Homo sapiens: one gene and its partners. The protein of the gene in region 3 purifies or fractionates together with the protein of the main gene of each other region. This does not show direct contact. Each region holds a gene or a part of one and is shown on either strand. Other genes may lie near its edges.

Region 1 (7,709 bases), on a different chromosome or scaffold from region 3:
GCTGAACTCCTTATCCAAGTAGGCGACCTTCTGTCGAAGACTGGTGAGTTCTGGTGTCGGGAAAGCAGGGAAACTCAGCCTCAGCCAGTGGCAAGAAACTGAAAGGCCTTCCTGCCAGGCCTCTGAGGGAAAACCTCGGACACCATTCCCCAAAGCCACCCCCATCTAATAAGGCCCTCCTGGCTCACCAACACCATTCTTGCGTAGTTCATCTGAAAGCTGGTAGTTGTTTGTCCGGAGTTCCAGGAGCTGAGCCTTTGGGGGAGGCAGGAAGGGAAAAGACTTGGTCAGGAAAGCGCCCCTACCCCTACCATGAGGGAACCAAGCCCCTAAGCTCCACAGACCTTACGCCCTCCATGTGCCTCTGTAGCTACTCCTTAAGACCTGTATGTGCTACACCCAAAGTGACCTTCCAGGCCCTCAGACCCTGGCTCACCTTTTCCAGCTCCACTTATAACCCCAGCCAGCCTCACCCCTCCATCTCACACTACAATCCACGCTGCACTCAGGCCATCCCAGAGCACTGCCCCCAGTCAGGGTCTTGCTTGTGTGAGTTCCCTGGCTCTCCATGCCCACAGGATAAAGTTCCTCCTCCTCATCCTGGCTGACCTCTCCACACACTGAACACACACTGTCAGGGGTGTTGTCCATATTTCTGACCAGACCTGGGGGCCTCTGATGGCAGGGGGTTAAGGGCCTGTCTTCCTCCCTCTTTCCTAAGGGAAAAGGGTCAAGTATTCTGCCCAACTTTCATTGAGTCAGGGGGCTTTCCAGGGTCCCCCCACCTCCAAGGCTCTCAAAATACATCCAGGCCCCCTTCAATAATTAAGGGAGGACCAGGTGCGGTGGCTCACACCTGTCATCCCAGCACTTTGGGAGGCCAAGGCGGGTGGGTCACGAGGTAAGGAATTCAAAATCAGCCTGCCCAATATGGTGAAACCCCGTCTCCACTAAAAATATAAAAAATTAGCCGGGTGTGGTGGCGCACACCTGTAGTCCCAGCTACTCGGGAGGCTGAGGCAGGAGAATCGCTTGAACCTGGGAGGTGGAGGTTGCAGTGAGCCGAGATTGTGCCACTGCACTCCAGCCTGGGTGACAGAGTGAGACTCTGTCTCAAAAAAAAAAAAAAAAAAAAAAAAAAAAAAGAATTAAGGGAAAGTGCCAGGCGCAGTGGCTGACACCTGTAATCCAAACACTTTCGGAGGCCAAAGTGGGCAGATCACTTGAGGTCAGGAGTTCAAGACCAGCCTGGCCAACATGGTGAAACCTCATCTCTACTAAAAATACAAAAATTAGCTGGGCGTGGTGGTACGCACCTGTAATCCCAGCTACTAGGGAAGCTGAGATAGGAGAATCACTTGAACCCGGGAGGTGGAGGTTGCAGTGAGCTGAGATCGTGCCACTGCACACTATAGCCTGGGTGACAGAGAAAGACTCTGTCTCAAAAAAAAAGAAAAAGAAAAAGAATTAAGCATCCTCCTCCCTACCAGCCCTATAGGACCCTGAGGCTGGTTCTACCCAGCAAGGCCGGTTCCTTCCCATTAAGGAACTTACTGTTCCTTCCCCTACCAGGACTTTTCCCTCCCTCCCACGCCACCAGCCTCCACTCACTGTTCTCTGGTAGTCTGCTCAAGGTCAGAGGGCTTGGCCTTCACAGAATCTTTCCTACTCCTGTCCTCTCCAGGACCCAGTGATCTGTCTCTCCAAGTACTGGTCCAAGTGGAATATCCTTTGTACCCCCCGAGACTTGCCCCCCAACAAAGCCCAGTAGTTCTCCCTCATTCATGGCCCAGTGGGATCAATGTTCCTCATTCAAGGGTATTCCCACTCCCCTCAAGATCTCCCCAGTCATGATCCATTGGGAATGGCCCTACACCCTTCAGGGTAGGCCTCTACAAGGCCTTGGGTAGGCCAGTTGGATGACTCTTACTCACTTAGAATCCCTTTCAGATGACAGTGGTCTTCCCCATTCATGGGTTAATCAACTCGCCCTTCCATTCTCAGTGTCCCTCACACAGGGACAGCTGGTTTCCCTCATTCAAGGACCAATTGGATTACCTGTCCTCCCTCAGAGTTCCTCCCCTCCCCATGCAGGACCCTGTTCAGACCCCCCCCCCAGTGAGGAACCCTCTCAACAAGGGCCCATTCATAGTGCAATGCTATGGCCTTTCATTGCATCTCAGAGTCCCCCCAAAAGAATCAAGTGGGGGTACCTCCCCAAAGCCCAGTGATCTTCCCTCCTTGTAGTCCAAGGTATCAATCTTTTACCCCTCTGGTCCTCCCCCCAGTTAATGGGATTAATGGTATTACCCATTCATGGCCTTCTTCACCCCAGGCCTAATGGGATCACCCTTAATCATCCAATGGTGCCGCCCCCTCTTAGGATGCACTACCAACCACCAATGGCACAGGATCTCCACCTCCCAGGAACAATGACAACATCTGGGGTCTTTCCCCAATCCCCGGGCACAGTGGTATCTCCCCCAAAACTTACCACCTCCCACCCGCTAATGGTTCTGCCCTCTCAAGGGCTCCCACCACCATGACGCAAACGACCCAACACCCGCTTCCTTCCTCTCCAGACAAAATGGTTTCGCCTTCTCAGGATCTCCTTCCCTCAAAGCCCATTATCATCACCCGCCGACGGTGTCCCCTGCACGGGCCCAAAAGTCTCGTCCCCTCCAGGTCTGAGTAAGGTACCGCCTACTTAATGGCGCTCTCCCAGCCCACAATGCTAACAGAGTCCAACCTTCAAAGCCGCAGAGTATCTCGGAATCCAATAGTCTCACCACTCCGAGCCTCAGTTTCCCTTCTCCAGACCCACCCCATAAACTCAGGGTCCATCCCAACCAACCCCTTCTCAGAGCTGATAGCACGACCTCTCGCTACCCCGCCCCCGGTCGCCTAGCCGGGTGGTCTTTCCCACCGCGAGCGGCACCTGCATCCGCTGAAACTCCTCCTCAGACAGAGCTTGCGCCATGTTCCTCCCCCCACCCCCCCGCCAGCTTTCTGCGCAGACGCAGCTCGCGCCTCCTGGCAGTATTAAGGTCGGACCAAACCACTGGCCAGGAATGGAGGGGGTAGAACCTAATTCCGAAGGGCAGCATTTTGGAGACGCAGAGAAGAGAACGAAACCGACGAGTCAGGTGAACTGTAATACAACGTTCTACCCGAATGTAAGTCATCTGATTGGCTTTTGGACTCTTCTAGGCCACCCATTGTGATACGACATTATTACATCCCCGTTTCATGGGTGGACTCGTCGCTAGGGAAGTCTTTGCCGACAGAAAATCACCCTTCCGCGGTATTCCTTTAATGAGAATGGGTAACTTAATAACCATAGAAATGAAAGCGGAAGCTTCGCTCTGGTCTTGTTCCCGCCCCTCCTCCGGGAGACCCCAAAGGGGAATCCCACCTCTTGTAAAGCCTTTGGCCTTTTTTTTTTTTTTTTTTTTTAAGGTTTGACACTTATTTTGTTATCATGATACTGCATGTCACGTTAGGTAAAGGACTTAGCCACCAATAAAAATAGCAGAGTGGAAAGAGTGACAGTGAATCAAACGAAAAAGCTACATTAAAACAAAACAAAAACAAAAAACAAACCAGGGTGGTGAAACACCAGGCTCATTCAAGTATTAGAATTCACTATAACCCTCACCGATCTGAGAGTAAGAAATGGTATCTCAGTGTAGTTTTTTTCTTATTTTCTTTTTTCTTTCTGTTTTTGTTGTTGTTGTTGTTGTTGTTTTTCTTTTTTGAGACGGAGTTTCACTTTTGTTGCCCAGGCTGGAGTGCAGTGGCACGATATCCGATCACAGCAACCTCCGCTTGGCGAGTTCAAGCGATTCTCCTGCCTCAGCCTCCCGAGTAGCTGGGATTACAGGCGCCCGCCACCTCGTCCGGGTAATTTTTTTTTTTTTTTTTAGTAGAGACGGGGTTTCTCCATATTGGTCAGGCCGGTCTCGAACTCCCGACCTCAGGTAGTCCGCCCGCCTCGGCCTCCCAGAGTGCTGGGATTAAGGCGTGAGCCACCGCGCCCAGCCTTCTTATTTTCGTAGAATTTAATGATTTCCCTGCTGTGGAAAAATATTTCCAGCAGGGCCGGGCGCGGTGGCTCACGCCTGTAATCCCAGCACTTTGGGAGGCCAAGGAGGGCTGTTCACTTGCGGTCAGGAGTTCGAGACTAACCTGGCCAACATGGTGAAACCCCATCTCTACTAAAAACACAAAAATTGGCCGGGTGTGGTGGTGGGCGCCTGTAATCCCAGCTACTCGGAAGGCTGAGGCACGAGAATCGCTTGAACCCGCCAGGCAGAGGTTGCGGTGAGCCGAGATCGCACCACTACACTCCAGCCTGGGGGATAGAGCGAGACTCTGTCTCCAAGAAAAGAAAGAAAAAGAAAAGTATTGCCAGCCAGGACTCTTTGATTTCTTTCTTGATTTAATTGACTTTATTGAAAGATAACGCTATTGATCTGTCTATATACATAAATGCACCCATTTTAAGGGTACAATTTAGTGAGCTTTGTCTAATGTATACAACCTTGTAACCACCATCACAAGCAAGATAGGGAACATTGATTTCTTTGTATCCTATCCCAAACCCCACCCCCTATCCCAGGTAACCAATGATTGGCTTCCTGTTACTGGATTACATTTCTCTTGCAGAGTTTCATGCAAATAGAATGAGACAGGATGTATCCTTTTCTGTCTGGCTTCTTTCACTCATCATAATCCTTTTGAGATTCATCCAAGTTGTTTCGTGTATAAGTATCTTTTTTTCTTTTTATTGACTAGTAAAATTCCATAGTATGGGCCGGGCGGGCTCAGTGGCTCACGCCTGTAATCCCAGCACTTTGGGAGGCCGAGGCAGGTGTATCACCTGAGGTCAGGAGTGCAAGACCAGCCCAGCCAGCATGGTGAAACCACATCTGTACTAAAAATACAAAAATAAGCTAGGAGTGATGGTACACGCCTGTAATCACAGCTACTCAGGAGGCTGAGGCATGAGAATCGCTTGAACCCAAGAGGTGGAGGGTGCAGTGAGCCGAGATCGTGCCACTGCACTCCAGCCTTAGCGATAGAGGGGAAAACTCTGTCTCAAAAACAAAACAAAACAAAACAAAATCCATAGTATGACTATACCACAATTTGTTTATCCATTCTCTTAGTGTAGTTTTAATTTGTGTTTCTCTTATTATGAGTGAGATTCACCACCTTGTCCTATGTTTATTTTATTTTTAATTTTTATTTATTTGTTTTTTTGAGACGGAGTTTCACTCTTGTTGCCCAGGCTGGAGTGCATTGGCGCGATCTCAGCTCACTGCAACCTCCGCCTCCCAGGTTCAAGCAATTCTCCTGCCTCAGCCTCCCAAGTAGGTGGGATTACAGGCGCCTGCCACCATGCCCGACTAATTTTTGTATTTTTAGTAGAGACAGGGTTTTACCACATTGGTCAGGCTGGTCTTGAACTCCTGACCTCAGGCGATCCACCTGCCTCGGCCTCCCAAAGTGCTGGGATTACAGGCATGAGCCACCGTGCCCGAACTTATTTTATTTCATTTTATTTTATTTTGAGACAGGGTCTTGCTCTACCGCCCACGCAGGAGTGTAGTGGCACAATCAGGGCTCACTGCTGCCTTGACTTCCTGGGCTCAAGCAATTCTCCCACCTCAGCCCCCCAAGTAGCTGGGACTACAGACATATGCCACCAAGAATCATTTTAATATCTGTTCTTATTTTATTTTTTTAATTTAATTATTATTTTTCTTTTGAGACAGAGTCTCCCTCTGTTGCCCAGGTTGGAGTGCAGTGGTGCAATCTCGGCTCACTGCAATCTCTGCCTCCCGGGTTCAAGAGATTCTCCTGCCTCAGCCTCCCAAGTAGTTGGGACTACAGGCACCCACCATCATGCCCAGCTAATTTTTGTATTTTTAGTAGAGACGGGGTTTCACCATGTTGGCCAGGTTGGTCTCAAACTCCTGACCTCAAGTTATCCTCCCGCCTCTGCCTCTCAAAGTGCTGGGGTTACAGGTGTGCACAACCGCACCTGGCCTCTTTGCATATTAGGAATATTAACAACTTTTTTGGGTGAGGGTGTACGGAGTTTTGCTCTTGTCGCCCAGGCTGGAGTGCAATGGCGTGATCTTGGCTCACCACAACCTCTGCCTCCCGGGTTCAAGCGATTCTCCTGCCTCAGCCTCACGAGTAGTTGGGATTACAGGCACCCACCACCACGTTTGTATTTTTAGTAGAAATGGGGTTTCACCATGTTGGCCAGCCTGGTCTCGATCTCCTGACCTCAGGTGATCCACCCGCCTCGGCCTCCCAAAGTGCTGGGATTAAAGACGTGAGCTAAGCTACCACACACGGCCTTTTCCTTTTCTTTTTCTTTTTTTTTTTTTTTTTGAGACAGGGTCTCGCTCTGTCATCCAGACTGGAGTGCAGTGGTGCAATCTCGGCTCACTTCAGCCTCGACCTTCTGGGCTCAACCAGTCCTCCTACCTCAGCCTCCCAAGTAGCTGGGACTACAGGCACAGGCTACCATGCCCAGCTAATTTTTTTTTAATTTTTTGTAGAAACCAAGTCTTACTATGTTGCCCAGGCTGGTCTCAAACTCCTGGGCTCAAGTGATCCACCCACATCTGCCTTCCAAAGTGCTAAGATTTCAGGGGTGAGCCACCACACTAGGCCTACTTTTGGTTTTTTTTTGTATGTGTGTGATTTTTTGAGATGAAGTCTCGCTCTGGAGTTCAGTGGCCCGATCTTGGCTTACTGCAACCTCTGCCTCCCAGGTTCTAGCGATTCTCCTACCTCAGCCTCCCAAGTTGCTGGGATTATGGGCACGTGACACCATGCCCGTCTAATTTTTGTATTTTTGGTGAGACAGGTTTCACCATGTTGGCCAGGTTGGTCTCAAACTCCTGGCTGCAAGGGATCTGCCCACCTCAGCCTCCCAAAGTGCTGGGATTACAGGCGTGAGCCACCGTGCCCGGCCCTTGCCTACATTTGTAATATATAAATTATGTTGTCACAGTCTCCATTCCATACTGGATTCCCTGACCTCCTGGTTGCTTTTTTTAAAATTTTGCATACATTAACAAACTTTTTTTATATCGTAAAGATCAATGGGTTTTGACAGAAGCATTTTAAAGTGTTCCACACATAGATTTTTTTCACATTTCTTGTTAGATTTCTTCCTAATTATTTTCTTTGATGCTATGGATGCTATTGTAAATGAGGTTTTCTCTATCATTGTATCTCTTTTTTTTTTTTCGGTAGAGACAGGATCTCACTATGTTGCCCCAGCTGGACTGCACTGGCTATTTATAGGCATGATCATGGCACACTACAGCCGTGAACTCCTGGGCTCAAGCCATCCTCCCATTTCAACTTCCCAAGTAGCTGGGACTACACATGTGAGCCACTATGCGTCTTTATATCCTCTCACTGGTTATTGTTGATATATACAAAAGCCATTGATTTCTCTATGTTAATTTTATATCCTTCCATTTTACTGAATACTTTTATTGTTAGAGTGTTTTATCATTGATTCTCTAGGGTTTACCAGGTACAAAATCATATCATCTGAAAATAGGGATATCTTTATTCTTTTCCAATCAGTCACACTGGCTGTAATTGATTTCTCTTGCCTAATTACCATTTTCCACTAACAGGAACCAGGGCCCCTTAGAGAAATAGCTGATTGC
Region 2 (7,022 bases), on a different chromosome or scaffold from region 3:
CTGAAAATATATTGAAGAATCGCTGCAAAATTTTTCCATTCCATCCCCTTTCCCCCACCCCCGTTTTCCACAGCAAGAATCAATTTGGAGGGAGATGTGTAAACTAGAATTTTTAAAGAAATAGTAAGACTTCAGGTGTTTTCTACCCAGGGATAGCCTACATAATTGAGAAAGAGGAGTTCCTGCTATTTTTCTGTTCCAGAGAGAAATGTATCAAATCTTTTTTAGAATTCCACTGGAGTTTTGATTCTCAAAGTGGAAATACCCATCCCTTTGGGTCCAGGAAAAGAAAACTCAGCTCACAGTTTCAGAAATTTGGACTGTTTTTTTCCCCCCTCTGTCTTTCTATTTGAAACGTCTCACAATTAAAGAGCAAGAAAAATATAAAAAAGGAACTCAACTAGTTACCATTCAAAAGGTGTCAGCTAAAATCTCACTGCAAAGGGAAAAAAAAAGGTTTAACATCTTGCCACTGGCTGCATCCCCCACCCCCCTTAGACTTTGGATTAGTCATTGTATGAGAGAGAGGGAGAAAAAAAAAATCACTTTTTTTTTTTTTTTGGAAAAGTAAAGTAAACAGCCTCCAACTGCTGAACCTTGACAACCCAAATTAAGGAAGCAGGAGAGATCAAACAGAACTGCTGCTGGGTGGTTGTCAGGAGCTGCTACACGGAGAACCCTGGACTATTCGATCAAGCAGCAAGGCTATATGTTCACTTATGCAGAAATGGACCATTGCAGATGCTAATCTTTGTTGTGCAAGCGAAGGCTCACTTGGAAGGAAATACTCAGCCCCTCTCTGGGCAGCATTTGAGTTCCTTATGGATGCCGAGTCGCGAAACAAGTTATTTTTTTTAATGTATCCTTCTTTATGAGGAGAATGCTACCCAAAAATGTATTAAAGGAATATTAAGTCGTCCAGAGACTGTCTTGCTACCAAGAACTGTGCAATGGAATTCTTTTTACCAACATTAGACTCCTACACTAGAGTTAGATAACGTTTTCTCACATTGAGTTTAGAAGATCTGCCTTGTCAGGGAAGCCAAGGTTTTGTATGTGAGAGTTTAAATCTGATGTGAAGCTCAAAAAAAAAAAAAAAAAGAAAAAAGAAAAAAAAGAAAAAAAAAATCTCTGGTGATGAAGTTTTGTGTCAGCCCACTCTTGGAATTTAAAAAGGCGAGAGAGAGCAGTCTCCAGATTAGACAACCTCTTTTTTTAGATTGACATTCAACATGACCACGTTGCTACTTTTATTCAAGTTCTCTGTAACTTGTCCTTGCTTGTTGTCTAGGAAAATTTAACTACTTTACATTTTTAAAGGGAGTAGTAACAGTAATTACTGTAGCATTTTGTTTTCACAGGTTTATCAAAGTATAATGAAAGAAACATCAACTATTCAAATTAACTGTCTCAGATAAGGGGTTTATATTGCTGGAGATGTCTAAGATTTTGTGTTTATATTTAAATCGTGGAGTATAAACTGTGTAACACTTTTTTTTTTCTGGGATAAACTATCCCCAAATTAAATGTTATTTTAAATTAAGTAGAACAAAGTAGGAAACAGGATAAGTAAACACATACAGAAGAATAAAAATAATTGTCATTTAAGGATTATATTTTTAATTAACAAGTGTCGGTCACATAGTAAGCAGTTTATATATTTTTTGTAAGCCAGAGTTTCATAACCATGGTGCACAACATGTTTCAAAGTCTGTAGTTTTTACTAGATATACCTTTATTGTATAATTAAGCAATGTGGGTTAAACATACACATGGATGCTATTAGGCAATTTTCTGCAATATGTAATGTTTTGAAAACGCTATAAATATTTTCTAGTTAAACCATTTATACTTATAATAGCAAAAGTTAACTGAGTTAATATTGAGCCTAGGCATGGTTTTCTGTTACTGAGTTTTTCTTTGCCTTTTTAAAGACTATACCCCTGGCCTTGTAAATTTGCATCTTAGGCTCTGTTGAAGGGTATGTCTGTTTTCAGCAGTTGTTTAAATTAACAGAAGAATTGTGATATTTTTCAAATATATTTATATTGCAGGGGGTCCAGTGCCAAAATTAAGAAAGAGAAGGAATATAGCAGATGTGACAACTTCTTTTGAACCCAGCTTCCTCTTTGCAGCCAATCTTATTGTGCATATTTATTTGATTTTCATGTTTTACTTATGACTCAAACTCAGTTTTGAAACACTATCTTGTAAGATTCCACATCTCAAAAAGTATGTATATTTAGACAAGGTTAGGTGTTACAGTACCTATCACATTTCAGTGGGAATGCCAAGAATATTTACAGGGTATAGCAAGAATTTTGTCCTTTAAAAATAATTTTAGGTATACGTTAATAAAACCGAAGTAGATTGCAGGCTGTCAGAACATAGTATAAATTTTGTTTATGATTCTGTTACTTTAAGGTACTTACATTAAAGAAACTCATTTAACCCGTGACTGAAGAGCATTAAGTGGGGAGGGAAACCCTCTGAAGAGCTCCTACTGCCCTTTGCTCTCCCGATAATCTTAAATTACTACAATTTAATTGCAACTTCAAGGCATTCAGCATGAGCTGTTTCTTCTCCACGACCGAGAAAGGGTTTCCAGAGCATGGCTAGATTTACACAGGTGGTATTTTTGTTTTTAATTTTTTTTTTCTTTTTGCTAAGGGCTTTTCCTTTCTTCCTTATCCTGTCAGATGTCACACTTCTTTTATAGATTTCAGTCATAGTAAATGCCATTTTTGCTATACCAGCAATATTGGCCTTCTTTTTTTCTTTTTAAATGTGTTTTTTTGAATCTAGAGTATATAAACCTCTCAAGCAGGTAGGGGTTTGTTTTCTAAAGAAAATAACCTCAAGAAAGGCATCTGCTGAATAGACAGGTGAACTTTATACCTGAGCCAATGTATACTTTTACTATTTGCAGGGGATTTTTTTTTTTTAAGTTGATGGTAGTTAGTCCCACCAGGTGATCAAACATTGAGTTTGTGAGACAAGCCAGCAAGCCAAGTAGGTTTGCACTTGGGCCCATGCATTTTTTTAATGATCTTTCTTGTCATTTGTTACTCTACTCTGCAGGCCACTTTGCTATACATATGCTATCCAAGGAACCATCTTAAACTGATTTTTCAACATATTTCTCTTCTCCGGTACTTGGATGAATTAAGGATAAAGGCTCCAAAAGCTGGAATGCCAGCAGGCCTTGAGATGAGGCAAGTTCCTGAAACGGGCAAACCTGGCGAAATTTGGGGTATCTTCTGCATGATAGTTTTTTTCCTTTTTTTTTTTTCCTGGGACGTTTGTAGTTTATTTCAATGAGCATGTGACCATGTGCTTAATGGAAATTAAGCAGATTTGGCTTGTGTCGCTAACCTAAAAATAAATGTTGTAAGGAATATTTGATTTCTAGAAGTGTTTTGGTTTTGCATCCCATAGATAATGTTCTTACAGTTAGGGCTACGAGGCTGGTATTCTGCAAAGAGGAAGTACAATGGGGGAAAGTGCATGGCAGTCAGGAAAGACAATTAGACAGTGTTCTTTGTTTCTTTAATAAATTATTCTTATTAATTACAGTCAGTTTGTGCTAAGGCATTTTTCAATCCTTGTTTAGAAGTCAGCTGCCATTCACAAGAAGGTTGTGCCAGAAGCTGTGTTCTTCGCACGCACTGTTGTTTTACCCAGTCGTGAAATCTATTGACCAGATTGGCTTGTGGATGTCTCTGCAAGGCTTGTTTTTCTTTTTGCAATGCCCTGATGCCAGTCTTTAATACATGCCCTGCCTTGTACACAACAGGTGTTTGTTCGGTAGTTATTTTATGGGACTTAGAGTGAGAAAAAAATGTTTCCTATCTAGCCAGCCGCTGTGAGAACGAGTGCCTGAAAGGGAGAACCTACCTAGTACCTGAACAGGTGTAAATGGGTGTTTCCTCATGACCCTCCCCAAGCTGTTTTATTTCAAAAGGAGGGGAGGGGGGCTCAGTTTAGTGCCATGAAATTTACAATTCAGTTGTAATAATTTAAGGTTATTGGTAGAGTGCAAAGGGCAGTGGGAGCTTTCTAGTGGTTTGGCCTTGATGCTTAAAGCTGCTCAGTTGTAGGGTTAAATTAGTTCCTTCAGTCTGAGTACTTAAAGTAACTAAATCGTAAACAAAATTTATATTCGATTCTGACAACTAATAATCTATTTAAATTATATTAAAGTATCTGGGCAAAAATTTAATTAAAGACAGAAGTACTGTCAAGCCCTGTAAATATCTTGACAGGTCTACTCAAATGGAACTGATATCACGAAATATTTACATATGTCTGCTGTGTTCGGGAACATCTCAGCAGTGCCTGTGCAAAGCTAATTGCACTTTCCTTCCAAATTGTATTTTTAATAAAATAGTTTTTTTTTTAAAAAGGAATATGAATACATACACAGTTGTGTTCCAGTGTTCTGTTTACTATTTACTTCTCTATACTCAGAATCATGTTGTGATGAGTGTATTTCCTCAAACTGCTGCTAATTCAGATAAATAGCTGAAATGGGATCATTGAATAGAAAGCCCATGTCATTCTGTTTGATTTCAACAGTTTGAAGATATCAGAGGCTAGCATGTTATAGGACAATTTACTGAGGGAAAAATGGATCTGAATGTGGGATTATTGGGCCTTGTTTATGTTCAATAGAATAGATTTGCTTAGGACAAACATTTTCTCTGAGTTTTATGTTTGGACATATATTTATTTATTACTTGTAAGTCAGGTGGACATCCACATTTTACCAGATGCTCTGATTTTAGCTAATTTTGTGATTCACTTTGTTTACTAGGACACTGAAGAATATTTCTAGCATCAAACTGAATTTCCGAGGTGTCCTTTCTCCCTCCCAGCTGTGCAATTGAGTCATAATGTGACTTTCTCTGCTCCAGGTTCCCTGCTTTTGAATTAGGGGTAATATTTTAACATATGTTCTTTGAGCTTAGGGATCCAATGATACAGGGCTTTGTTATTACTCACATTTTTAAAAGATATTCTTGGTGCTCTCAGGACAGTGACCGCAGCTTTTGTTGGGGGAGGGTGTGATGTGAGTTTTGCTTGAGTTTCTTTTGCCCTGGTGCCTACCTCCTGATGACCAGTGGCACTGGTGGCTTCCCCTCCTGGGGGTGAGCACAGAGATGGAAGTGAATGCTCATGTCTGAAGTGAAGGGAGGTTGCAGTTGGTCCTAATTCAGCCTGGTTCAAAGTGAGGTCCTCGCTCACCTACCTCTGTATCTGTGTGTGTGTGTGTGTATGTGTGTGTGTGTAGGTTATTAAAATACAGATCCTTGAGTCAGAATTTTTGCTGATTGACATGGTAACGTACATTTATAACAAACTTCCCTTGATAATTCTGATGCATGCTAGAGACCTGTGAATCAAGTGATTTATTCTTTCAGATGTGTGGAACTGAAATCTCTATCTTCACTTGGATTTTACTGATGATTTCTTTGATTTTACCTTGAGGCCCATCCTGTGTTGTTTTTAATGTATTTGGATTTTTATTACGAATGAAAAACGGTGGTTTTTAACCAAGCACGAGTATTGGAATCACAGCAGAGCTGTTGTTCCCAACACAGACACAGTTGCACGACTCCTGGATGTGCCGTATCTGGGGTGGGGCCAGCATCTGTGTTTTTAAATCGCATCCCACATGGTCCTGATGCCCACCAAAGTGGGAAAACTGGACCTGTCAATTATCAGAGTTGGAGGAAAGCCTGCAACCCTTCTTAAGAGTTTAATTGAATTGGTTGGCCATTGTGAAACCTAAGAGAAGAAAACGGAGCTCCTTTTTCAGGAGGGCACAAAAAGAAACCTTGGAGACTTAGAGAAACAGAGGCAGAACAAGAGCCTCACAGTTCAATAACGTGATAGGAACAACCTGGAACATCGGTGGTTTTCACCAAATGTCAATATCAGATAATTTCCTTTTGAATTTTGTCTTGCCTGCATCCATGTTTCCCAATGGGTGTTGTCATGCTGTAGCTACCAATTAGTGTCAGATGACTCTCTAGAATTTTTTTTTCTGAGTATTCCATCTTAATTTTAAAATTGTAACTGTTTGCTCTTTGGATTAACCCTGCTGGCAGAAGTATTTTGATTTTCCCAAGCATCTTGGGAAATTCTCTATCGTATGTGATGGGGCATGCACGAATATTGATGGAAATAGCCTAGCCAACGATGCCACACAAATAAAGAAACCAGAATCCTAAGAAGAAGGCATCCTACAAGATTATGAAATAAAGGAAGATAAAATGTTAAGGAGGCTTATTTAAATATTCAGGGCTTCAACTAAAGATCTAACCACTAAGATCAAAAGAGTTATTTAAATAAAAGTTGTTGAGACATTTTTTCATCTGTATTAATAATGTGGCTTTTGAAGTTACCCGGTAATAATGTGTCCATAATGCCCACACCTAATTTTTAATTTCCATTTTGGCTTTAGGTGTGGCTTTATTTTAATAGCTGCCAAAAAGTTGGCAATTGTTTTTACGTTTAGAACTTCACAGTTTGCTTTTCTGTAGGTTTAGGTAGCATTGGGGATATTCGTCTAATAAAAACTTTTAAAATTTCTGTTCTGACCCTGAGGCACTTAAAAAAAACTCTTATGGGCCAAATTTTAAAAGTAGAGTGTCTCTACTACTGCATAAAGAATTTCTATAAAAGATGAAACATGGAGCTGATTGAAAGAATAGACGGCGCAATGGTAGAGGACACATAGTTACCACTGTCACTGGTAATCTACAGCTTGATGCGAAGTCATTCCGCCTTGTTTGTTGAAATGTTAATCATTTCATTAAGAAAGGTTAAGTAATTAACTGATATTTCATTAGGGAATCAATGACAGACCTTTTTTTAGTGATGTATGGTAGATATTTTCTAATAGAAAGTTTGCCCCATTTAATTATTTGGAAAGAAGCTAGTTGATTGAGCCTTGGGAAGGAGGGGTGGGGCATCTTCAGATAACATCTATGTCCATAAGCAACTTTAAATAATTT
Region 3 (7,022 bases):
CAATCTTTCTGGATCCAGGGGGCATGTGAGGAGGGGCTCTGCTAGGACCTGTGCCCTGGGCTCCAGTCACCCCAGCATCCGGTGGGCAGGTTTCCCACCACCCAACCCGAGGGCTTGGCATCTGTGAGCCCACATCCTGCAGCAGGGGCCCCCTCTGGCTCTCCGGCCAGCTAGGGGACACCCAGGCCCTCCTCTGCATACCCCCCTACCACGTCGCCTCCGAACTTGGATGGCCAGGATGGGGTCCCGCGGCTCTCTGCTCCTCGTGGAAGCAGGGATCTCGCTACTGGGCTAGCGTGGGATACAAGAGGCCCTGGGGAGAATGCCTGGAGGAGCCAGCGGCTGCGGGTGCGCAAAGGGCCCGCTCTAGCTCAGCCGCCGCCGCTCCGCAGTATGACCAGTGGACCATCTCCAAGGCCTGCGGGAAAAACTTGCCTTTGCGACTGGCGCACTGCCGCAGCACCATGGAGGTAACCAGGCAGGAGGGGCCTCGAGACCCAACCCTCCCCACCCCTGCCAGCACCCCCCCACTAGATGTTGCGGAGCCGACGAGGGACGGAGCAGGTGCCCAGCCCCAGGTTCCCTGTGGGGTTGCCACGAGCCTCCACCCGCCCGCCTGCTGGCGGGCTCCATGGCGGCCCCCTACGCAACCACGAGTGGGCGGTGCCCTTCCCGACCCAGGTGGTGCGGGAGAAGCTGCGCAAGTACGTCTTCGACCGCGTGAACATGCACAACCTACTGATCCACCTGGTGCGGCGGCGCGGGCAGAAGCTGGAGAGCATGCAGCTGGAGCTGGACAGCCTGCGGAGCCAGCCCGACGCCAGCAAGGAGGAGCTGCGGCTGCTGCAGGTGGAGAGGCGGGGCTGGGAGGGCGGGGCGGAGTCCACTGGGGCAAGACTCACGGGAGGGGCGGGGCCACCGGGGGGCGGGACTTGCGGGTCCCCTGGGGAGGGCTCACGGGAGGGGCGGGGCTAAGAGAGCACGACCCTCTCCGGAGAAAACCCAGCCCCGACACCCTCCGGGCGGCCGGTCCCCACGCCCTCTCACTGCGCCCTCGGTCCGCCCCAGATCATCCGCCAGCTGGAGAACAACATCGAGAAGACAATGATCAAGATCATCACCAGCCAGAACATCCACCTGCTGTATTTGGACCTGCTGGATTATCTGAAGACAGTGAGCCCAGCGGCCCGGGAAGGGCGGGGGTCAGGGGCTGGGATCTGGGAGGGGCGGGAGCGTCCTGGGGCGGAGCCGCCCCGCACCCGCCAGGGAGAGGGAGCTCTGCCTGACCACCGGCTACGCAGGACGCCGAGGCATGTGGAAAACGTTTTTTTAAACTTCATTTTTGGCTATTCCAAAAAAGCATATCGTGGGGTATATCAGAATTCTTCGGACTTTCTTGCACGTATTAAATGATTTGGTATTGTTTGTATCTTGCCTGTCATTTTCTCATTGCCTGGGCCTCTGAGAGTCAGACAGGTCCTGCACCCTCAGAAAGTCCTTGCACCTTTGAGGGTCCGCTGGGCCTGTAAGCAGGGCTTGCTGCCGTCCCAGCCAGCCCACCCGCCCTGCTCCCTGCAGACGAGGCCAAAGGCAGCCAGCAGTCCGATTGTGAGGGAAGACCCCCTTCATGGGAGGCTGAGCACCGCCCCTCGGGCTGCCACAAAGCAGAACCTACTCCAGATGGGCTGTAGATAGGGAGAGCACAGGAGGTGCTAAGAGGAGCAACCTGTGGATGGGGCGGGGAGCCAGCTGGAAACACCCTCACCCTAAGACTGGGCAAAGGGGAGCTCTGGAGAGCCATGCTTCGGGAAGGTGACAGCATGGAAGTGCAGTTTAGGAGGAGTGGTGGACGGAGGCTGCATCGCAGCTCTTTTCCTGCTGTGGTCCCAGCCCAGGTGGCTCTCAGCACCGTCCTCTGCTTGTCCCTCTTGCCTTGGCCCCTGGTCCTATTGGCTCACCTGGAAGCCCTGCCCCTCTATGCTTCCTGGGCCCACCCCTCTCCCCACCCCTGTCCATGCCCCTCCTTCGCCTGGGTGCTTTCTGTTCCTCTGGTAGCGCCTTCTTCTGTTTAGAACATACACACTTAAAAAACAATTATTCCCGGCCTGGGCATGGTGGCTCATGCCTGTAATCCCAGCACTTTGGGAGGCCAAGGCAGGCGGATCACTTGAGGTCAGGAGTTCTAGACCAGCCTGGCCAACATGGTGAAACTTCATCTCTACTAAAAATACAAAAAGTAGCCTGGCATGGTGGTGCATGCCTGTAATCCCAGCTACTCGGGAGGCTGAGGCACGAGAATCACCTGAACCCAGAAGGCAGAGGTTGCTGCAAGCCGAGATCGTACCATCGCACTCCAGCCTGGGTGATAGAGTGAGATTCAGTCTCAGAACAAAGGAAAAAACAAGCAATAATTCCCATAGTCATCCATATTTTTAAAAATGAAGATTCTACACTTCTAGTTTTGTTTTTGTTTGTTTTGTTTTTTGAGATGGAGTTTCACACTGTTGCCCCAGCTGGTGTGCAGTGGTGAGATCTCGGCTCACTGCAACCTCCGCCTCCCGGGTTCAAGCGATTCTCCTGCCTCAGCCTCCCGAATAGCTAGAATTACAGGCGCCCACTACCACGCCCGGCTGATTTTTTTTGTATTTTTAGTAGAGACAGGGTTTCACTATGTTGGCCAGGCTGGTCTCTAACTCCTGACCTCATGATCTGCCTGCCTCCGGCCTCCCAGTGTTGGGATTACAGGCGTGAGCCACCGCACCTGGCCTATACTTGTAGTTACAAAAAACAAACCACTATAGCAAAGCTATCCTGAGCACGTATGTACCTGGTTCTGGGCTAAATAATTCCTTTTACACTCAATTCATCCTGATGGCAACCTTCTGAACGAGCCATCATCTTACAAATGGGGACACAGAGAGATTAAGTAACTTTCCCAATGTCACACAGCTAAACTAGCTGGTCAGAAGCTGCCTTGGCCTTGAATCCTGACTCTCTGACCCCAAGCCCATGTCTTGAGCCCCTCTGTTTCACTTCAAAGCAGAACTGTCCCCAAACCTCCCCGGGTTTCAGTCAGCCTTTTCTGCAGAGCATTTCATCACAAACTCTCTCAGTCTCTCTGGGTTGTTGGACCCTAGGTGGTGAAAGAGTCCACCAGGCCAGCACTGTCCACTCCCTGTGAAACACCTTTCATCACCGTTGTGCCCAGCGGGGAGTGGGGGAGGTGGCTGGGGCCACAGAGGAGAACCTATCACTGTTCTCAGGGCTCTTAGTCGGGGGATAAAAGCTCGGGGCAACTGCAGCCCACTCTGTAGGGGCCACAAGAGAACCCCATTCAACACAGGTGCTGGCAGGATACCCCATTGAGCTGGACAAGCTGCAGAACCTCGTGGTCAACTACTGCTCAGAGCTGTCGGATATGAAGATCATGTCCCAAGATGCCATGATGATCACGGATGAGGTCAAGGTGAGCTCAGGGCCCAGGGCTGGGGGCCCCCCAGGGCCAGCCCTCTTGGATCTTCGGATGGGGTCAAGGTGAGCTCAGGGCCCAGGGCTGGGGGCCCCCCAGGGCCAGCCCTCTTGGATCTTCGGATGGGGTCAAGGTGAGCTCAGGGCCCAGGGCCGGGGGCCCCCCAGGGCCAGCCCTCTTGGATCTTCGGATGGGGTCAAGGTGAGCTCAGGGCCCAGGGCTGGGGGCCCCCCAGGGCCAGCCCTCTTGGATCTTCGGATGGGGTCAAGGTGAGCTCAGGGCCCAGGGCCGGGGGCCCCCCAGGGCCAGCCCTCTTGGATCTTCGGATGGGGTCAAGGTGAGCTCAGGGCCCAGGGCTGGGGCCCCCCAGGGCCAGCCCTCTTGGATCTTCGGATGGGGTCAAGGTGAGCTCAGGGCCCAGGGCTGGGGGCCCCCCAGGGCCAGCCCTCTTGGATCTTCGGATGGGGTCAAGGTGAGCTCAGGGCCCAGGGCTGGGGCCCCCCAGGGCGGGCTCTCTTGTGTCTTCTGGCCAGGGTCTCTCAGGAGACCCCCATGCCCACACTGCCTACAATCCCCAGAAGGATCCAGTGGCCAGCCCGGCCAGCCTGCTCTGCTCACCCACTGGACAGAGCAGGTCCCATCCAGCACAGGAGCCATGAAGTAGAGGAGAGGGAGAGAACTGGCCGGGCCAGGGCGGGGGTCACCTATTCACCCAGTCTGTGCCAAGGTCCCTGCAAGGCTCTGGGGATACAGCAGGGACCGGGACAGGCAGACCCTGTCCTCCTGAAGTGGGTGGCACTCATCCAGTAGTCCATGAAGAAATGCCACACAGCCCCTGAGCCAGCTCAGCAGAGACAGGTGGGGTGGCAGATGGCTTTCCAGGAAGACAGTGCTTGAGCTGGGCTGAGGGATTGAACCCGCAAAGGTCAGGTGTGGCCAGGGCTAGGGAGGAGGAGGTACAACTTGGGAAAAGGCCCTGGGCTGGGAGGGGTGTGATACATGGAGCAGCGTGTGGCCAGGGCAGTGGAGGCTGCAGAGGCACAGGCCCCAGGAGTCCACGGAGGCGGCTGGGCTGGGGGCCCAAGGACTGACCTGGAGCCCTGGGAGGAGGTGGAGGAAAGATGTGACCAGGTCTGTGCTTCAGAAAGGGTGTACTCAGGCTGCAGGGACTGGAAGGTGCCAGGGCAGAAGCGCTGATCACCTGGGTATACCCGGGGTGGAGAAGGGGTGGCCAGGAGCAACGGAGCTGAGAACTCCTCAAGAGGCAACCCCACTAAGCGCTGGCAACGAGAGTGGCGAGGGTGAGAGCAGTGTCTGGGGTGCGTGAGCAGGGGTTAGCAGATGACGGTTTTAGCTGCCCAAGGGCACGCTGGAAGAGGCCAGGTTTTGGGGAAGAGGATGAATCTGTCTTCAGGCAGGCTGAATGCACTTCCGTGAGTTCTAGGTGGACCTGGCCAGGAGGCAGCTGGGGGCCAGCGGCTGGAGGGCAGCAGAGCGTCTGGGCTGGCACATGCTCTGAGGCATGGGCAAGGAGGGCCGTGAGCTGAGGGGCCACGGGCACAAGTGGTTTAGGAAAAGGGTGTGGCCATTGGCCGGGGATGCAGTTCCAAAGTCTAGTAAGGTGAGCATGGCCAACCGCCCGCTGGCTTTACTGCCATTAGGGGCCTTGTTGAGACAGCTCCCCAACCCTGTGCCCACCCGCATGTCCCCAGAGGAACATGAGGCAAAGGGAGGCGTCCTTCATCGAGGAGCGCCGGGCAAGGGAGAACCGGCTCAACCAGCAGAAGAAGCTGATCGACAAGATCCACACGAAGGAGACCAGCGAGAAGTACCGCCGGGTAAGCCCCAGGCCAGGGCCTGGCTGGCTGCCCATCCCCATGACAGCTGGGTGGACACAGGCTCAGGGCCACCACTCAGGGCCCACTCCCTGCCAAGGATGTCTCATCCCTTCCCCGCCCCCACCTCCCATCAGGGCCAGATGGACTTGGACTTCCCCTCGAACCTGATGAGCACGGAGACCCTGAAATGTAAGCGCTCAGCTCCCCACCTGCCCCCAGCCAGGGTCCCAAGGAGAGGCTGGCACTGATTCAGGCCAACGGATCAAGTCACCCTGAGGCCAGGTGTGACATGTGGTCGCCAGGGTGAAGGGAAGGACAGGTCCCTGCCTCTCCCTCCAGAGGCTGAGAGCCTGTAGCCAAATGTGGCCTCAGAGATGCTGGCCCCAGCACCCAAGGGCCCTGCACCAAGGGCCCAGTCCCCAGTGACTCTGCAGAGGATGAGCATCCTGACCCCTAAGCTGCCTCTGAGAAGCACCACCGGGCCCACAGTGCTCACAGTGCTGCGCCACTCACTCCGGGTCCACCTCTGCTCTGGGGCTGCCTGGGGCGTCCCTGCAGGGCTGGGCTGAGGAGGGAGCAGGTTGGGGCGGGGGCAGGCATCTCTGAAGGATGCCTGTGTCTTGGGTGGCCGCCCCAGCAGCTGGGCAGGTACAGAGGTGTCTGACAGCCTTACACAGAGCCCCTGAGCCATCCCTGCATGCTGACTGCCCCTCCCCTCTGCTCTGCCAGTGAGGAGAAAAGAGACCTCCACAGCAGAAATGGAATACCAGTCGGGCGTGACTGCTGTGGTGGAGAAGGTCAAGAGTGCTGTACGGTGCTCTCACGTCTGGGTAATGCCCCTGGCGCTCCCAGAGAATGGCAGGAGGGTGGCTGAGCCTCTCACGTCTGGGTAATGCTCCCTGGCACTCCCGGAGCATGGCAGGAGGGTGGCTGAGCTGGGCTGGGGTCTGAGGCACTCTGAAATGGACACACAAAGTGGCAACTCCCTCGGCCGCCCCAAATCCTTTTATCTTAATCCCATCTGTGTATCTGCGTTTATTATTATTAGGCCTTGAGCTCCTAACCACTGCCCTGACACAAGCTTGTCCACTGTCAGACAAGTGACTCAAGTGACACAACGTCCTTCAGTGATGATCTCCTTATCTCTACATGGGGTTATCTACCCTCTCTGCCTGCCATTAGGGTCGTGTGCAATGACATCCACAAAGCGCTTCACCCCTGCTAAGTGTGGTGGTGCACACCTGTGGTCCCAGCTACTCAGGAAGCTGAGGTGGGAGGATCGCTTGAGTCTGGGAGGTTGAGGCTGCAGTGAGCTGTGATCACACTTGTGAATGAGCACAGAGAAAGTGCACTAGCGTCTAGGAGGGGCCCAGAAGAAACCAGTTCTGTGAAGCCCCCTCTGCCCACCATCCTGGCCCACACCTGCTTCTCTCTCCCCCGGACTGGCCAGGACATCACTAGCCGCTTCCTGGCCCAGAGGAACACGGAGGAGAACCTGGAGCTGCAGATGGAGGACTGTGAGGAGTGGCGGGTGCAGCTGAAGGCCCTGGTGAAGCAGCTGGAGCTGGAGGAGGCCGTGCTCAAGTTCCGCCAGAAGCCTAGCTCCATCAGGTGCCCCGGGCTTCCGGGGCTGCGGGCCACCCACCCCAGTCTCACAAAGGCCCCGGGCTGCAGCCAGGCTGGGAGCTGGGAGTATACCCACTGCCAACAAGCCT
Region 4 (7,283 bases), on a different chromosome or scaffold from region 3:
TGATGAATTTTCAAGCAGAATTTTCTTTAAGGATTCCCCAACTGCTCTGTTGACATTTTTTCTCAGGAGTATTTGTTCCTCTCCATGTGAAGACATAAAGAACAGAAAAATCACTTCTGGGCTGTGATAATATCAACGATGTCTCTTAGGCAAAAAGACCTGCTGAGAAAAAGAAATGTCTGCAAGGCACAGATGTCACCTCAACCTTCAGAAACACAGCGAAGTGCAAAACCCAAGCCATGTTTGCTTACTGTCAGCATGTCAGGCTTTGGTGCCAGACACGGGAAGTTCCTGGGAAGTAGTTAAGACATGCAAGAGTTTCAGAGGATGACTAGAAAAAGATGCAAGCCCAAGCTCAAAGCCAGAAGGACCAACAAATTGAACTTGTTCTGAACTACTTTTAGGAAGTGAAACAAGAAGGGTGGAAAAAGTCCTGCGTACATTAAGGTCTCTGTTTGCAGAAGGAAGTAACGCTCCAGAAGCCAAGGTTGGCAGCCTTCCTCAGACACAGGCCCCCAGCAGGCATCAGTCTGCCTAGAGTCAAAGCACCCAAAAATCACAGGCCCTGCACAAATTTTCCCATCTAACCCTCACACAAACCAGGGGTAGAGGAGTCAGAAAGGGTGGCCAGTATTATTTTAGAACTGAGGTAAAGGAGGGCCAGCCTATGTCAACGGTCCAGGTCAGGTCACACTGCCAGGAAGCTGCTGAGCTGGGGTTGAACCCAGGGCTGACTGACTGGGAGTCTGGTGATCTTTCCATCATACCTCTGGGCTCTTGAAGCAGCTCAGGGTGAAGCCTCCACTGACCTACACTCAACAGATGATCTTCACACAATCTCTGAGGGATCTGACTCTTTGAGACCTACTGAAGATGCTCCTCATGACAGTTTCTAAGAGGTCAGAGGAGACTGGTGGGCTCAACTCAGGACAGAAAACCAGAAGCTCTGAGCTCTGCTCATGTTCCTACCCTCTGTGACAAGTTGCTTCATCTCAAATCCTCCCTTGGAAGGATGGGAATATAAGGTGACAATATTAAGTTTCTGTGAATTCAATGGAACTAGGAGAATAGATCACACAGCTTAAAAAAAAAAGGTATTACAGTAATATTTATATACAGCTTTCTTCAGAAGCCATGTGGAAGCCCTCACGGGTTCATTCACAGGTTCATACCCCTAGGAGCAGACAGGAAGGCGGCAGGTCTTTCTCATGTTGATGTCAGGGAAACTGAGGCAGAATTGAAGCAAGTGAATATCCGCAATGGAATGAGGCTTAGATTCATACAGCCTAGTCCTCCAGCCACCAAACCGTCTCACCACCTCCCAAGTAAGACGTGCTCTGCTCTGGCAAGAAGCCATGGGGCCTGCATATTTCTCAGAAAGGCAAAGATTCTTCCTCTGGGTACCTTCTTCCAGAACCTAGGACCAAAAGATCCCCTAGAGGTCATGTGGTTCCTCTCTTTTTAGACCAAAACGAATGCAGCTCAACCACTCTGAAGAGAAGTTCTCGACAATCTTCAAATAGTTTTCACGGATAGCCTGTTTTGTGTCTCACTGTTCCCTAAAGTCAGGAAAATCTTAGACTCTTGCCCTGAAAGGTATCACTAATAGCAACAGCCTGTAGGATTGTTTTATCCTAAAGAAAGTAAGTCGAATGCCCCTTATGAAGATCAGACAAAAAGCAATAAGGCTACATCGTGACATAAATCCAAATAAATACAACGGCAGCTAAAAATCTTTTTTTTTTTTTTTTTTTTGAGACGGAGTCTCACTCCGTGGCCCAGGCTGGAGTGCAGTCGCACGATCTCGGCTCACTGCAACCTCCACCTCCTGGGTTCAAGCGATTCTCCTGCCTCAGCCTCCCAAGTAGCTGGGATTACAGGCGTACGCCACCATGTCTGGCTAATTTTTGTATTTTTATTGGAGACAGGGTTTCACCATGTTGGTCAGGCTGGTCTTGAACTCCTGACCTCACGATCCACCCGCCTCAGCTTCCCAAAGTGCTGGGATTACAGGCGTGAGCCACCATGTCTGGCTAAAAGTCTTAAATATCCCCTACACCCCAACCTTAACTCCAGTCTTTCCTTTGTCTCTGTACTTTGCAGGTCTCTGACAGCCTGGCAGAAAACCTGGCCTTGCCTCTACTACCCGAATGACCTTACATGTGGGATTTAACCTCTCTGTGCCTCAGGGTCCTCATCGATAAAATAGGGATATTTAATCCCCACAAAGGTTGCTGTGAAGTTTAAATGTGTCATTGTAAGGAAAGTGCTTAGCACAGTGCCCGGTACACAGAAGGGACTCGATAGCCACTAGCAAGCATCTCCCTCGTTATTTTGCAGCATTATCACCGGTGTCTCCATTCAGTTAACTTGTCTTAGAGGCTCCAACAAACAAGACCAAGCCAGTGCCTAGCCGGAGGCGGGCGGCACGGGACCGTTTTCTAGTTTTTTTTTCTTTCTTCTTTTTCAACCTTGGCAAAGAGATAACGCCCTGAACAACGAGGAGGCCTCAGGATGGCCATGGAGGTGAGTCCGAAAGAGGAAATCAGAGCCCGAAGAGTTTTCCCTCAGGCCAGTGGGGAATTCCTCGGGGCCTAAGTCCTGTCTCTCCGGGCGGAAGCCCCAGGAGGTGCTGCGGGTATGGGGCGGCCGAGGAACAGGCCGGCGGCCAAGTGGGCGCGAATGAATGAACGAACCCTCAGCCCTTCCTCCTCCTCTGGCTGGGGACGTCGCTCGCGCCCCTGCAGCGCCGCGTCCTCTTCATGACCTCTGACCCCGCAAACCCCTCACCTAGGACCCCTGACCCCTCGCCCCACTTCTTCTCCTGGCTCGCCCGGGTCCCCGCTTCCTCACCCGCAGGTCCCAATAGCTCCCGGCGCCCCGGCTCGGTTCGGCTTGGCACCAAAATGTCCGCGGCCTCCACCTCTCGCTCTCCCGGTGCGTCCGGGCTGCCGGCGGCTCGGAGCCCCGCGGCTGTCACCTGCCGGGCGGAAGTGAGCTGCCCGCGCGCGGGTACTTCCGGTGGACGCAAGGCCTGAAGGCGGGGTCAAGGGTACAACCCTGGCGGGGGTGGTGCCCGTGGGGCGGGGCAAGAAAAGGGGAAGAGCCCAACGGTATTAACCCCTCGGCAGCCGCGGCGCTGCTATGCTGCAGTCTCCCGCAGAGCCCTTGGGAAACCATCCCGCTAGCCAATTCAGCGTGAGGGGGCCGGGCAAGGTCGTAGGGAGTTTGAAGTCCATCTTCTGTGTAAAGACGGCAAATCTGAGGTTCTAAGAGGGGCAGGGTTTTGCTCAAGGTCACTCATTTTTTGTTTGTTTGTTTGAAATAGGGTCTTGCTCTGTTGCTCAAGCTAGAGTGCAGTGGCTCGAAGATCTGGGCTCACTGCACCCTCCGCCTCCCAGGCTCAGGTGATCCTCTCACCTCAGCCTCCCAAGCAGCTGGGACCACAGGTGCGCAGCACTACGCCCGGCTAATTACTTATTATTTACTTATTTATTTTTTGTAGAGAGAGTCTCACTTTATTGCTCAGGCTGGTCTCGAAATCATGGACCCGAGAGATCCTCCCGCCTCGGCTTCCCAAAGTGCTGGGATTACAGAGGGGTCTCTCTCTGTCCAAACTAGGTTTACAGCTCTAGTTTGGACCCCTCCATTCTTAAGATGAGTGACCTTGAGCCAGACACAGTGGCTCATACCTGTAGTCCCAGCTACTCGGGAGCCTGAGGCAGGAGAATAGCTTGAGCCCAGGAGGTTGAGGTTACAGTGAGCTATAATTGCAGCACTGCACTCCAGCCTGGGCGACAGATCCAGACCCTGTCTCAAAAAAAGAAAAAAAATGGCCGGGCATGGTGGCTCACACCTGTAATCCCAGCACTTTGGGAGGCCGAGGCGGGCGGATCACAAGGCCAGGAGATCGAGACCATCCTGGTTAACATGGTGAAACCCCGTCTCTACTAAAAACACAAAATATTAGCCGGGTGTGGTGGCAGGCGCCTGTAGTCCCAGCTACTCAGGAGGCTGAGGCAGGAGAATGGCGTGAACCCGGGAGGCAGAGCTTGCAGTGAGCCGACATCACACCACTGCACTCCAGCCTGGGCGACAGAGCAAGACTCCGTCTCAAAAAAAAAAAAAAAGAAAAAAGAAAAAAACCATCTGCAATCCCACTGACCTAAGACAATCACTTTTAATATTTTGGTGAATATTCTTCCAAACTTGATAGATCATTTGTTTTTTTTTGTTTGTTTGTTTTGAGACAGGGTCTCGCTCTGTTGCCCGGACTGGAGTGCAGTGTCGTGATTTTGGCTCACTGCAACCTCTGCCTCCCAGGTTCAAGCGATTCTCCTGCCTGGGCCTCCCAAGTAATTGGGATTACAAGCATGCACCACCGTGCCCAGCTAATTTTTGTATTTTTAGTAGAGGCGGGGGTTTCACCATGTTGACCAGGCTGGTCTTGAACTCCTGACCTCAAGTGATCTGCCCACCTCAGCTTCCCAAAGTGATGGGATTATAGGCGTGAGCCACTGTTGGTATTTTTTAACTCACCAAAATATTGGTAAAAGTTTCCCAAAATAGTAAATACATTTCTACTTGGCACTTTCCAGTATCTGCATAGTATTCCATTACGTGGATGGTACTGCTAATCTCAAAAACAATCCCCTGAGGTTGTTATCCATCTTTTTTAATATTATCAAAAAGTTGTTAATAAATAAGCTTGCACTTACTGCTAAGTGCACTTATTGCTAAGTCTCTACGTCCTATCTAATATAGATATTACTGGTTTTTATATTTAATATAATTTTAGATGTTTAAGCAGCCTCAAAGCCTTTAAAAGTTATTTTTAAATAATTATAGACTTACAGGAAATTGCAAAATTAGTACCAAAATTGAGTCCCATATACCCTTCACCCAGCTTCCCACAATGGTGACATTTTATATATCTGCAGTATAATAGCAAAAGCAGGAAATTGGTGGTGTTGGTAAAATACCGTTATCTAAATTACAAACCTTATTCCATTTTTATTTATTTATTTATTTATTTATTTATTTTAGACGGAGCCTCGCTCCATCACCCAGGCTGGAGTTCAGTGGCTCGATCTCGGCTCACTGCAAGCTCCGCCTCCCGGGTTCACGTCATTCTCCTGCCTCAGCTTCCCGAGTAGCTGGGACTACAGGCGCCCGCCACCACGCCCGGCTAATTTTTTTTGTATTTTTAGTAGAGACGGGGTTTCACCGTTGTTAGCCAGGATGGTCTGGCTCTCCTGACCTTGTGATCCGCCCGCCTCAGCCTCCCAAAGTGCTGGGATTACAGGTGTGAGCCACCGTGCCCGGCCACCTTATTCCATTTTTAAATCCTTTTTAAAAGTAGTCAGGGAGGCCATCCTGGCTAACACAGTGAAACCCCGTCTCTACTAAAAAATACAAAAAATTAGCCGGACATGGTGGTGGGTGCCTGTAGTCCCAGCTACTCAGGAGGCTGAGGCAGGAGAATGGCGTGAACCCGGGAGGTGGAGCTTGCAGTGAGCCAAGATTGCACCACTGCACTCCAGCCTGGGCGACGGAGTGAGACTCTGTCTCAAAAAAAATAAAAATAAAAAAGTAGTCAGGGAACAAATGGAATTTTTTTTTCTTTTGGCTTCAACAATGGAATTTATTTTCTCACAGTGCTGGGGACTGGAAGTCTAAGATCAAGGTGTTGGCATGGCTGCTTTCCTCTGAGGCCTCTCTCCTTGGCTTGTAGATGGCCGCCCTCTTGCTATGTCCTCACACGATCTTTCCTCTGTGTGCCTGGAATAATTTTATGTGTATGTATGTGCCATGCAGCATGTGTGATATGCAACTTTCTGGAGGAACTGCCCTTCTCTGATGATAGATGTTGGTAAATGCCACCCGCCTCAGTGGAAAACAAAATTTCATTGGGAATGTAACATCAGAAGAGAAAAATTATCCTACAAAACAAACCAACAAACCTAAAGGTATCAAGCTGGAGAGCTTATGTGCAAGTGGCAAGTCAGTGGTTGAAGGAGTCAGAGCTTTAAGATTTCCAAGGAGGGAGAGGTCACAGCACCGGGCGGCTCAGGAAGGACTTCCTGGGGAAGATGGCATTTGCGCTGTCTTGCCGAATGAGAACAGAGTTGCGTAGGCTGAGAGAGAAGGAAAGGGTAATCCAGAGAAAAGAACTGTGCCGAGGCAGGAAAACCTCACGGGCCCACCCCCACGCCCAGTGCAAGGGAGCCAGGTGTCTGAGTCCTGCAGAAAGCATTTTCCAAGCCTCTGGTTTCAGCCAGGCCCTGGGCTGGGTGCTGGATAGTCAGATGGGTGAGGCTAAGGCCCTGCCCTTGCTCAGCCTACAGTTTGCAGGGAGAGGGGGTGACAGAGGAGCAAGTCACAAGTGTGACTGATGCTGTGAGAGGGGACATACTGGGAGGCTATGGGAGTCCAGAGCTAAAACTGAAGTTCCTTTGGGTTGGAGGGACCAGGGATGCCTGGACAAGTAGAAGGTTTTTGTTGTTGTTGTTGTTTTGTTTTTGGTGAGCCGGGGTCTTGCTCTGTCCCCCAGGCTGGAGTGGAGTGGCAGCAATCTCGGCTCACTACAACCTCTGCCTCCCGGGCTCAAGCAATTCTCCTGCCTCAGCCTCTCGAGTCGCTGGGATTACAGGCGCCCACCACCAAACCCAGCTAATTTTTGTATTTGTAGTGGAGATGGGGTTCCAACCTGTTGACCAGGCTAGTCTTGAACTCCTGACTTCAGGTGATCCGCCCGCCTTGGCCTCCCACAGTGCTGGGATTATAGGCATGAGCTACCACACCTGGCTTTTTTTTTTTTTTTTTTTTTTTTTTTTTTTTTAAGACAGAGTCTCCGTCACTCAGGCTGGAGTGCAGCTGTGCAAATTTGGTTCACTGCAACTTCTGCCTCCCAGGGTCAAGCAATCCTCCTGCCTCAGCCTCCCAAGTAGCTGGGACTGCATTTGCACACCACCATGCCTGGTTAATTTTTGTATTTGTAGTAGAGATGGGGTTTTGCCATGTTGGCCAGGCTGGTCTCAAACTCCTGACCTCAAGGGATCCACCTCCAAAGTGCTGGGATTACAGGCATGAGCCAACACACACGGCCAAGTAGAGTGTATTTAATCAGGAACTGCAGAACAACAGTGAATGTTTATGGAACATGTAGCGTGGCAGGTAGTGTGCAGAAAATCTCATTTGCTCCTGACATCGGCCCCATGAGGAAGGGGTTGTTTTAGCTCCATTTCATCTTGGGGGGAACTTCAACCCTGAGAACTTAAATA

The links.
Region 1: the proteins of CCDC183 (region 3) and GRIPAP1 purify together in Homo sapiens (affinity purification with mass spectrometry; 3 studies listed by BioGRID and IntAct, with this or other methods). This does not show direct contact.
Region 2: the proteins of CCDC183 (region 3) and FOXP1 purify together in Homo sapiens (affinity purification with mass spectrometry; 3 studies listed by BioGRID and IntAct, with this or other methods). This does not show direct contact.
Region 4: the proteins of CCDC183 (region 3) and AP1B1 purify together in Homo sapiens (affinity purification with mass spectrometry; 3 studies listed by BioGRID and IntAct, with this or other methods). This does not show direct contact.

The regions. Positions count from the first base shown.
Region 1 is NC_000023.11:48,999,250-49,006,958, forward strand, and holds the start of GRIPAP1 (GRIP1-associated protein 1), read right to left. Parts: upstream 3,016-7,709; 5' UTR 2,981-3,015; coding exon 2,939-2,980; intron 256-2,938; coding exon 189-255; intron 51-188; coding exon 1-50. UniProt on the Homo sapiens protein: Regulates the endosomal recycling back to the neuronal plasma membrane, possibly by connecting early and late recycling endosomal domains and promoting segregation of recycling endosomes from early endosomal membranes.
Region 2 is NC_000003.12:71,573,712-71,580,733, reverse strand, and holds part of FOXP1 (forkhead box protein P1), read left to right. Parts: intron 1-7,022. UniProt on the Homo sapiens protein: Transcriptional repressor. Can act with CTBP1 to synergistically repress transcription but CTPBP1 is not essential. Plays an important role in the specification and differentiation of lung epithelium.
Region 3 is NC_000009.12:136,799,321-136,806,342, forward strand, and holds part of CCDC183 (coiled-coil domain-containing protein 183), read left to right. Parts: intron 1-392; coding exon 393-470; intron 471-681; coding exon 682-849; intron 850-1,068; coding exon 1,069-1,173; intron 1,174-3,343; coding exon 3,344-3,466; intron 3,467-4,606; exon of another isoform or gene 4,607-5,181; coding exon 5,182-5,307; exon of another isoform or gene 5,308-5,441; coding exon 5,442-5,496; exon of another isoform or gene 5,497-6,036; coding exon 6,037-6,137; exon of another isoform or gene 6,138-6,264; intron 6,265-6,729; exon of another isoform or gene 6,730-6,757; coding exon 6,758-6,918; intron 6,919-7,022.
Region 4 is NC_000022.11:29,385,571-29,392,853, forward strand, and holds the start of AP1B1 (AP-1 complex subunit beta-1), read right to left. Parts: upstream 3,001-7,283; 5' UTR 2,854-3,000; intron 2,527-2,853; exon of another isoform or gene 2,339-2,526; intron 1-2,338. UniProt on the Homo sapiens protein: Subunit of clathrin-associated adaptor protein complex 1 that plays a role in protein sorting in the late-Golgi/trans-Golgi network (TGN) and/or endosomes.